Regions from separate parts of the Homo sapiens genome. Here region 2 is linked to region 1. Evidence: fine-mapped expression QTL. A gene starts in region 1. The other region holds a variant in brackets. All regions are shown on one strand. Distances are between the middles of the regions.

Region 1 (5,383 bases):
TTTCCAGAGCCTCTATTCCCACTTAGGTTCTGATGTTCTTTCAACTCTTGTCTGTTTTTCCCAGAGGTGCCAAAGACCACAGGGCTTGGTTTTATGTTGTGTCTCTATGGCTTTTGACTTTTGGTCTTTCATTGACTCTGGCTTCACTGCTGCCTTTCTGAGTCTTCCCAATTAAGAAAACTTAGAGGAGAATGCCCACACTCAAAGCACCCAGGATTGCCAAGAGAGAACCTTAAATAGAAGAGAAGGTACTGGAGTCCATTTGGTTGCTGGTGTTGAGATGACCAATTAAAAAGTTATCTAACTCTCTGAGACCAGCCTGGCCAACATGATGAAACCCTGTCTCTACTAAAAATACAAAAATTAGCCAGGTGTGGTAGCACACGCCTATAATCCCAACTACTTGGGAGGCTGAGGCAGGAGAATCCACTTGAACCCAGGAGTCAGAGGTTGCAGTGAGCCAAGATCATGCCATTGCACTCCAGCCTAGGCAACAAGAGCAAAACTCCTTCTCAAAAAAAAAAAAAAAAAATTGTCTAACTCTTTGTATGGAAAGTTTGGAATAATCAGGGACTCCTATCAAGACCTTTAGCTTCCACCATGCAAACATCATATAGGATGAATCACCTTCCGGATCTTCCAACCAGGGTCTTTGTTCGGCTTGAACAACTAAAATTAGCAGTTTATTCACGGTCCATAATGGCTGGGGAATTATTTCATACATATGGGACAAAGGAGAGGGATCCAAAGAGGGCCCTCTTCCCTAAGTCTCATTCATGAGATTCTTCTCATTGAAGAGGCACTCTCAAGCATCCAATTTGCTGCAATTATAGCAATCAAAAAAGCATTCAGTCTCCTTCCGCACCTGACAAGCCAGCTCATGCATTCTCACCAACAGTGGTGGGGTGGATGCTATTGCAGCTCCCATCCCCCTGATTCCAGCTACAGCCACTAATACCACCCTTATCCCCACACCCAGAGCTAGAGGTGGTTCACAGTCCAAGGAACTCCGTCATGTTAACATCGATGGTAGACCTGTAGCTGCCCAGATTCACATGGGCTTACTGGTTCTCTAGAAAGAGACTGGTTTGCCTTTAGTATTGGCTTATAAATATCTCTATCCCCATGGCCTGAAAGAGAACTGATGATAGATAAACTTCTCCATTATGTAAGTTTCTAAGGGCTGATAAATAAGCTCCTGCCATGATAACAGGTGCAGGTGTAGCGCCATGGAGAAGCCAGGGCCTGTCTGATTGCTGCATTGTGCCAGCATTCATGTTACTTGAATGGGTGCTTTGTGAGAATACAGTCTCTGCAGATTGCAGGGACCGGCTGCTGCTGGTGAAAGGGTGGGGGTCTGTTGATGAAAGTCCCATTAACAACACACAAATAACTCCCAGCTTCCTCTTCTCAGTTGCCTCTTTGTTCTAGGCCAATGGCTCTCAGGAGAGCTGAAAATGTTATTTAATTATTTCTAACCCCCATACTGCTGCTACTAGGACTCCTTCTGGAATATCCATTCCCAGCAAGGCATCTGTATTCATTCTCATGAGCCACTCCAGGCTTGCCAATGGATGAAAGAAGTCTGCAACCACTGTAAACAATCAGGCTGGTGTTGAGTCACTTATGTGGACCACCACTGTGCCACTCCTTCTGACCACTCCAGCTGCTCCACCTCTGACAGGCTTCCATCTACCTTGGAGGCCAGCTGACCACAGTACTTAGATCATTACTTGATCTCTCAATCCCCTCTGAGAGTCTTTGGGAAACAACATGCGAATGTTTATCATTGTTAAGTCTGGTCACTGAGCCTCATGGAAAATTCTCCCCTCTTTTCTCAATTTTCTCATTTATAAAATGGGAATAATGAGAATACTCAGACCTTCTTCAAGAGGTTATTTTGAGTCCCAAGTGAGATAATACCTGCAGAATACTGAATATTCAATTAAGGAGGTGCTCAGTAAGAGCACTACTATTTCATTACTGTTTCTCTCATGTCAATTATTAGGGTATTTTAAAATATCTTTCTCCAGAATATCTTTCTATCTCCCAATATGACGATAAGTTCTCCTAGAGCAGGGCACTTCTAAGTTTTCTGATGCGTCCACACAATTTATCAGGCAGCTGGAACATGGAATGAACACTTGCATGGCAGCCAGGAGCCTCAAGCTGGAGTCCCAGCACCACCTGTGATTACCTCATTCCTCTGTCTGGCTGTCTTTCATTAGGTCTTCTATTATCTCCTCTGTGCCCTCACTCTCCCTTCCCTTCTTAAATCCCCATCCTTCTACCTTGGCCTCACCTACTGAAATCTCACTCCACCTTCCAGTTCAAACCAAATTCCCCACCTTCTGGGAATCCCTTCCTCAGTAGCTGCAGACTACACTGGCCTGTCTTTTCCCAGACTTCTCATTCCTTCATGTTAGCACCACAATGCTTAGCAACTAGTGGCTTTTTCAATAAGAAAGATGTAGTCTTATTTATCTCTTTGCACAACTCCCTTCTCTATTGTGTTTTCCACATTTACATACCACTTTGGGGCAGAAATTGGCCCAGTGGCCAAATCTGGCCCACTTTCTTTTTGTATGGTCTAAAGCTAAGAATGTTTTTGTATTTTAAATAGTCAAAAAAAGATCAAAAGAAGAAAAATGTTTCATGAAGTGTAAAAATTACCTAAAATTTAAATTTTGGCATCTACAAATAAAGTTTTATTGGAACGTAGCCACACTCATTTGTGAAGCAGGTTCACTGTGCACTGGTTACCAACTTGTCTGAGTCTGGTAAGGCAGAAGATCCTTAAACATAACAAATTACATGAAACAAATTTATTATTTACAGATAAACAGCAAGGGATAACAGAAGTGTAGGATTGATTGTGAGCTTCTCCCCCCAAACTCAGAAAAACTGCCAGGTAAATGAGGTCTCATCTGCATGTGCCCCACTTGCATTGCTACTGAGGGACCCTGAAAAGCAGACAACCCTGGGTGTTACACCCTCCCCAGGGTATGAAAGGACACACTAGGCAAATGTGTTGAAGAACATCCCGTTTCCAGGTGGAAACTGGAACTGAGCCAGCCTGTTCCAGCCAGTCTCTCCTTGTCTCAGGATGTTGCATTCTCAGCATATTTTACAGTTATTCCAGGGAACAACAGTGAGAAGGGGAGAGAGCTGGGTTGGTTCAAGGCCACCTGGAGAACTGTCCTGCACCATGTGTCGTATATTGTTTATGGCTGCTTTGACACTACAACAGCAGTGTTGAGTAGTTGCAGTAGGGACTGTTTAACCCACAAAGCCTACATTGCTTACATCTGGACCTTTGCAGGAAAAGTTTGCTGACCTGTACTTTAATATATAAAAACCCATTCACATTTGCACATTCATTTGGTGGTCACCACAGGCCTATGGTAACATCTCCGTTTTCAGAAGCTCAGAAAAGTAAGCTGCTTGCTCAAGAATGGACGGCTTCAAGGTGGCAGAGCTGGAAGTTTCTAACTCACTCACCTCATACTCAGACCTGCACTGTTTTTCAAGACAGTCAATATTTCAGGTAACTCTTCTTTCTTGTAATCCATTTCCTATCACATGCCTCACTTAGCATCTCCAATGAGCTCCCTCAAGAAATGTGAGGTTGCATCAGTGGCTCCCTAGTCTCTCTGAAAAGTGATGTAATTGTTATCAAATTAAAGCCCATCAGTAACTGGTAAACTGCTCTGCTCTTAGCTGGCTGGGCCCACAAGTGCTTTATCTAACCAACCATAACTTCTTCCTTGGCTGACGATAAGGTTTAATTAGGAGGAGGTGACATGTTGCTGGTGACCACTGATTTATAATGAACGGCAGCGAGTTTTTTGGAGGGACAGGTAGACATGCTGGCCCCCATCCAAGCCTGCCTGCCTGAACATCTCCTAATCTCTTGCCACCCTCCCTCTTTGCCCGAGCTCATGTTGTGGGTGTTCACTGGTGTCCTTAGTCTCTGCCTTGATGGCCCTTGGTCTTCAGGCATACTCTTTCCTTGGGACATCTTTTCCTAGAGCTTGGTGATTTAGGGGAAATTATTTTCTTACACTGAGCTTAGTTTCCTCATCTGTTGAATGAGAATGATGCTTCTAGCTTTCAGCACAGTTGAAACACAGCACACAGATCACACAGAGATGATCATGTGTGTCAGTTTATGTAAAGTGTACCTAGCACAGCTCCTGGCACATCAGCAGGACTCAGTAAGTGATATTACAGAATTTTCTATGATACTACTGTATCTTTATTCTGAGTCTCAGCAAGAGTGGGCACTAAGCCTTATCTTAGGAGGTCGTTTCTTCTTTCAGGAGCTTTATGATTGGGCATGATCCTTTCTCCATCCTTTCCATTCAGTGCTCAAGTTCTCTGACACTTCCTCATAGCTCACTTGTCAGGAAAGCCAAGAATGTCTGTTGATGTGACTCCTGCCCAGGTAGGAAGTGGTGGTTCTGAACTAGAGCTGAGGTCCCTTGATAGGCTGCATGGAATGCCCTTTGTGGCCACTGGGGCCACTAACCAGGCCTTTCTCCCTCCCACAAATCAGGGTTCCCAGACTTTCACTGGGAGGGCAGTCTGCTGGAGAATTCTATCTAGCTTGTGAGGCTGATGTTTTTCTTCCATTCAGGCCATCTACTGATTGGATGAGGCCCACCAGCATTCTGAAAGGTAATCTGCTTTACTCAAAATTGATCAATTTAAGTGTTAGTCTCATCCAACAACACCCTCTAAGGTGACACATAAAATTAATTAACATTATGCGTTAGCATGCAGAAGTACTCTCCATGGTCTCTCCCTGACAATTCTTATTTTGTTTGTCTTTCTAAACAAATGTATTTAAGAGGTAAAACAACTGGGGAGCCATATGATGTTTCTTTCTCTGTTCAAGTTGGTCAAATAATACTAACATAAATATTTCCTCATGGAGAGATTAACTAACTCAATTGTATAAAGCATTTTCAGTCTACTCTCTCATTGCTTTGTCATGTAAGGCCAATGATCAACTGATCTGATGCATTCATTTTTCAGACAAGGAATCTGAGACCTGGCTGGGAGAAGAGGACTTGCCTAAAGTTATCCCACACAGCAAATTAGTTGGAAAACCAGGATAGTTGAGTAAATATCCTGGAGCCCAGCCAAGTAATGAAGCCAGAATTCAGAAAGCTGTTTTGGCTAGATCTTGGATTTTTACAATAAAGGGTCTGTAAGGGATATTTGTGAAAAATGTTGACACTTGACGGCTGTCCTGATTCATTCAGCTACCTAGGTTATCTCTGCCTCTCTTTGACTTGTGTTTTGTCTTTTAAGATGGCAGTCTTGCTCTTTTGCCTGGGCTGGTCTTGAACTCCTGGGCTCAAGCAGTTTTCCTGCT
Region 2 (5,383 bases), 64 kb before region 1:
AGACACTAAAAAGCTCCCAGAACACTCACTGTGCAGCCAGCGTAGAGAGAAACCCATCTAGATTGGGGCCATGTGATGGAAGGCTATGGGCGGGGCGGGGGGGGATGTCCCCAAGGGAAAAAGCAAAAGGAAACAAGAGGTTACCTGGTGCATTTGAATGTTTAAAGAGGAGTTTACATTTCTAACAGAGTTTGAGAGTGAGTTAAATGGAAACATGGAAAAGTAAGCAGAGAAAAAAAAAAATGAAAACCAAGGCAACTATTAACGTCAGGGATAAAACAAGAGCTTGTACTAGAAAATAAATGCAATTAGAGTACTCTACACTGCTTAGCTATAAATAATATTCAAATAGTCATTAAGTATTATGACTGAATATTGGTTTAACAAAAAATGTGATTTAAAAGAATTTGAAGGTAAGAGAAGCGTGCCTGATTAGAGCCTGAGGGTGAAAGACAATTAAATGCTTATCTTGGTGGAGGAAATCAGTGATTAATATCAAAAAGTGAAAAATCAAGAAACAGAAACAAGGAGCTGAATACTAGAAGAAAAAGCTAAAAGAAAGGAAGATGATTGCTTCTGGGGAGAGGAAATGGAAGCTGGGAGGGGCCAGAAAGGGCTGATTTTTGCCATAAGCATTATAGAATGACTCTACTTTTCTTAAGCTATGCCCACATATGACTTTGATAAAAATTAAAATAAAACATCACTTTAAGAAACTAATGGCTTAATAGATTTCCAAGATCTCTTCCTGTCACATTCTCCCTTTCTGTTGTTGTTGTTCTTAATAAAAAAACAAAACAACAAAAAACAAAGATAGGGTCTTGTGATGTTGTCCAGGCTGGCCTCAAACTCCTGGGCTCAAGCAATCTTCCCACCTCAGCTCCTGGAACATCTGGGAGTACAGGTGCAGCCCCCACTCCTGGCTACATTCTCCCTGTTTATTTTCTTTATTCTGATATGCCTCTCTCCCCTTTTTCTTTTCTTTTTATTTTTTTGAGACGGAGTCTCACTCTGTCGTCCAGGCTGGAGTGCAGTGGCACAATCTTGGCTTACTGCAACCTCCGCCTCGCTGGTTCAAGCTTTTCTCCTGCCTCAGCCTCCCAAGTAGCTGGGACTACTGGCATGAGCCACCATACCTGGCTAATTTTTTTGTATTTTTAGTAGAGATGGGGTTTCACCATGTTGGTCAGGCTGGTCTCAAACTCCTTTTTCTTTTTATATTACCTAGTCTCCTCTTTTCTTCTTTACTCTGACTCCTCTTCCAACCACAATTTAAATATAATCACGGCCAGGCACAGTGAGAAACACCAGTAATTCCAGTACTTTGGGAGGCTGAAGAGGGCAGATGGCTTGAGTTCAGGAGTTTGAGATCAATCTGGGCAACAGAGTGAAACCCTGTCTCTACTAAACATACAAAAATTAGCTGAGCGTGGTGGCATGTGCCTATAATCCCAGCTAGTCAGGAGGCTGAGGCAGTAGAATGATTTGAGCCCAGAGGCAGAGGTTGTAATAAGCTGAGATTGTGCCATTGCACTCCAGACTGGGCGAAACCCTGTCTCAATAAATAAATAAATAAATAAATAAATAAATATAATCACAATTATAGAAATGCAGACGGTACAGATGTTTTTACTTTGCAAAGGTTAAGGCAGCCCTAGACTAACATTATTTATTAAAGACCCAAGTTCATTAGCTGGAGGTAGATACCCAGGCAAGGGCAGTGGGAGGGCTGTGGTCTAGGCAATGAAGGGGACATTCACTGTATAGAATTTTAAATTCATAATAAAACGCATAAAAGTTGTTTATTTTTAAATTACAATTATATCCCACCAATTCTGAACAATTTTTAAATTACCATTATATCCCACCAATTCTGAACAATGTCAGTGATGAATTACTTCCCCCAAATAACATTTTGTTGATCTAAATTATAAATAATTGCTGTGATCACTGTTAAGTTTTAATAATACATATATAAGTATCGCTCCAACCCGTGGATAAATCCCCAGGCTCAAGATTTGATTACTTCAAGAAATTCCAAGAGTGGCCAAGAGTGAGAGGACAACTCCTTCCCTAGCCCTAGCCGGGTATCCATCTCTCTTGACTCTTTTTTCTTGCTGGGGATGTGATCTTTGAGAGAATTATGTCCCAGAGGCTCAAGACTTATAAACAAGTGTGGAATCTGTTTGGAGCTGGCTTCAGCTTTCTTCCTTCTCAGAGACACAAATGCCCACAACGTTTTGGGGAAACTTTTCTTTAAACTGAAGCAGACGGTCCCTAAGGTCTCTGTTGTGTACGGGAGGGAGGTGTTTAAAAACACCCTCTCAGTGTGTCACATAGATACATCATGGATTGGCTGACTTCATTTCATATTTTCAGGATATTCACATCCAAA[C/G]TTTTGGGGATTTTGTCTCTGTGGCACCCTGTGTAACCACTCAAAGCCCAATAAATATTATGTGATTTATCAGACATTTGGGCTTAATCTTCAGCACCCCCTCCTCCGAGCCCCCCATCCAACTGCATAGTACAGGAGGGGTGAGGGCCCAGGCTGTGGTTGGCAGCCTGGGAAGCATCACTCCCTCCCCATACTGGGGAATTAATTTGGCTCCTAAAATAATGGATGGGGTCATCACTAGAAGGAAGAAAGGTACCAAGAGAAATTTATCAGCACCTGACCAAGCCATGAGTATTAGCAGTCAGGCCTGATAGCCAACTTGGCATCAGAAACAGAAAAATGTTTATTTCATAAACACTGTACACACTGAGCTTATTCTCACGCACACAGACATCTGACCTAGGAAGGCTCAGCAAAAGTTGCTGATAACAAAATCAGTCATCCCTTGAAATGGAAAAGGCTTTTTCCATGTGTTGATCATTAATTGTTGCCAAAGGCCAAAAGGGGCTTTCAGGAATGCTAAATGTAATCTCTGGCCTTTCCTGAACCTCCTTTCATGTTCTCTGCCCCATCTACACACCACATTTTCGCCCTCAGTGAATTCAGACACTTTCAGTTTAGAGGATAATGCCCTCTGAACAACCTCAGGCCAAAAGGGCAGAGACAGAGAAGCCTCTGGAGGTTCGGAAGGACAGATTCATCAGACGGCAGAGCCGGAAGCGATTTTACACCCCTTCTGCAGGAGTGAGAGGAGTAGCTGTTTGACCCCCGCTGCCTCAGCTGAGGCCAAAAGGCACGGCTGATTTCCACTTAAGGATGTCAAAGAGGTGAGCACTCAGGGGTGATGCCTTAGGCTCTGGGTTGAACTAAAAGCTGGGTATGTAGAACCAGGAATGTTTCAGGTTTGTAATGGGAAGTAGAGAGTGGTTAGGAGGAGGGAGAGGCTGGGGAATGGGAATAAGTGGGGAAAAACAATGTATTCTGTCTCCTGAGAACTTCTAAAGAATCTCAGAGTTGCTGAAGGCCTGCAGTGTCCAAATGTGACTTGACCACCTTTTCTGGGGGGCCATGGCAGGAAGCAGTATCGGCAGTCGCTAATTCTCAGCTCCAGAGAGTTAAGAGGGCCTTTCCCTGGAGACCCTGGGATGGTGGAGAAGACGGGGCCCAGGTGGCTTAGTGGCTCAGACATCTCAGAGTGGGCTCTTAGAGACCCTCTAATCCTAATGCATCTTTTAAAAGATAAGAAAACCAAATCCTTGGAGTCAGAAGTGAGTTTCCGGTTAGAGTATAATCTTCAAAAAGGTAAAAGTATGCCTCATACAAATAGTGAACATGTTTCAAAGATTTTATTGAACTCATTAGTTAGCGGGGAAACAATAAGATTGAGAACCACCCCGAAGAACATTTGAGAAGCTAGGTCTATACAAGCAATTTAATAGCTTGGTGTGTAATAAGCTATATAAAGACTGGTTTACATTTAATAGGATCATAAACTGTACACTTTGGGGCTATTAGTTCCACTGGGCAGAGATTATTTATATGTCTACTGAACTAAATTTATAAGTGAGGCTTTCCTTTACAGTGAAGTAAAATAATCCAGTAAATAGAAAGTTAGGTTCAGCACTGAAAGATTACCCAATAATCTCTTTGGCCTGTATGTAAATTTCAGATGATTTTTTAAAAATTGTTCATGGTTTCACTGATAACCGATAGCAGATATATAATGATAAAGTCTCATTATGCTCAACCCAATATTTTTGTCCTTGCAACACAATCCAGAAAGACCAAGATGTCCAAGAGTTAAATTTAGGGAAGAGGTGGATCTCCTACTCCCTGTTAGCCCAGCTCACCTACCCTTCCTAAAGTGCTGCTTATGGAAACACTGACCCCATGAGGAAGCCCAAACTTCCCACATTCTCCAAACCCAAGGCAAGGTCTCCATACTTTCCTTCTTCCTTCCAGCATCCCACAGGATCCCTTGGCCACCCTACTGTTACAGATAGTTAGGCATGAGAGGGGCATGAGAGGGCTCTTCCCCCACCCACTAGAAATGTCGGGTGACAGTTTGGCAATTATCGCATTGCCTCTCTAAAAGTGATAAATTGACAGCCAGTGCCAGGGAGAGGCCATCTCCTGAGGATCCGCGCCTGTTAACATCAAAATGTTAATTGAATGCAGGCCCCAAGGAGAAGCCCCTTGGGCACGCATGTTAAGAGATGAAATGGTGAAGTATGACATTCTGGGGGCACATGCCACTGGAAAAAGGGAAAAAAGCCTCATAAACTCATAAACTCTCTAAACGCACTGTGCATGCTCAATTCCCAAGGGTAACGAGGGCACCATGCATGCAGAAAGCACACCCTAAGAGAAGAATCATGGGGAAGAGGCGAGCTTATCAAATCCTAGAACCTTGGTTAAAGGCGGCTTCCTTTTTTTCTCTCTTTAACCTTTAGGCACCCACTTGGATCTCTTCCAAGGGTTCTTTCCTTCCTTTACCCTTCTAAAGTCTTTTTAATAAACTTCCATTCCTGATCTGGAACTTGCCTGGGTATCTTTTCCTGTTTTATGCCCCTTAGTCAAATTATTTCTTTTGAGGAGGCGAGGACTGAAGTTGCTATGGACTGTGACAGATACACTGCTGGTAACTTGGGGTAACTGGGGGTAACTCAGATCTCGTCCACTGCTAACAGTACCACCACCATGCACTCACTCAGTTCTCATATTCAGCTGTCTCTGAGCTCTGTGGCGCCCTGTGACTTCCTTTTTGCCTCTCTGAGTTCTTCCTACAGGTTCTCAGTTGGAACTCTCATTGGAAGTGTTCAAGTGAGGCTAGGTGACACTTTGGCTGAGTACTAAGCAAGAGGACTTAAATACTGAATGTGCTTGGTTGGCATAGATGCCATTTAAAGTCCTGTCAGTGCTTAAATTCAAAGATTCTGTAGGAATTTATTCCCCTAAATGGGAATGATAAACAGCACATGCAACTTA

Evidence for each region. PIP is the estimated chance that this variant, and not a neighbour inherited with it, causes the effect.
Region 2: its variant is the best candidate, but not a certain one, in a credible set for the expression of LINC02041 in nasal epithelium (TOPMed, PIP 0.52).

What each region holds. Positions count from the first base shown.
Region 1 is chr3:187,444,211-187,449,593 of GRCh38, forward strand. LINC02041 (long intergenic non-protein coding RNA 2041) reads left to right here and starts at 2,836. Exons shown (of 4, transcript NR_146716.2): 1 at 2,836-2,911; 2 at 3,398-3,547; 3 at 4,640-4,680; 4 at 5,041-5,383.
Region 2 is chr3:187,379,918-187,385,300 of GRCh38, forward strand. No RefSeq gene overlaps it. Among named protein-coding and RNA genes, the nearest start is that of RTP4, 14 kb to the left of the region's middle. The variant C/G (reference allele first, on the strand shown) is at 2,396.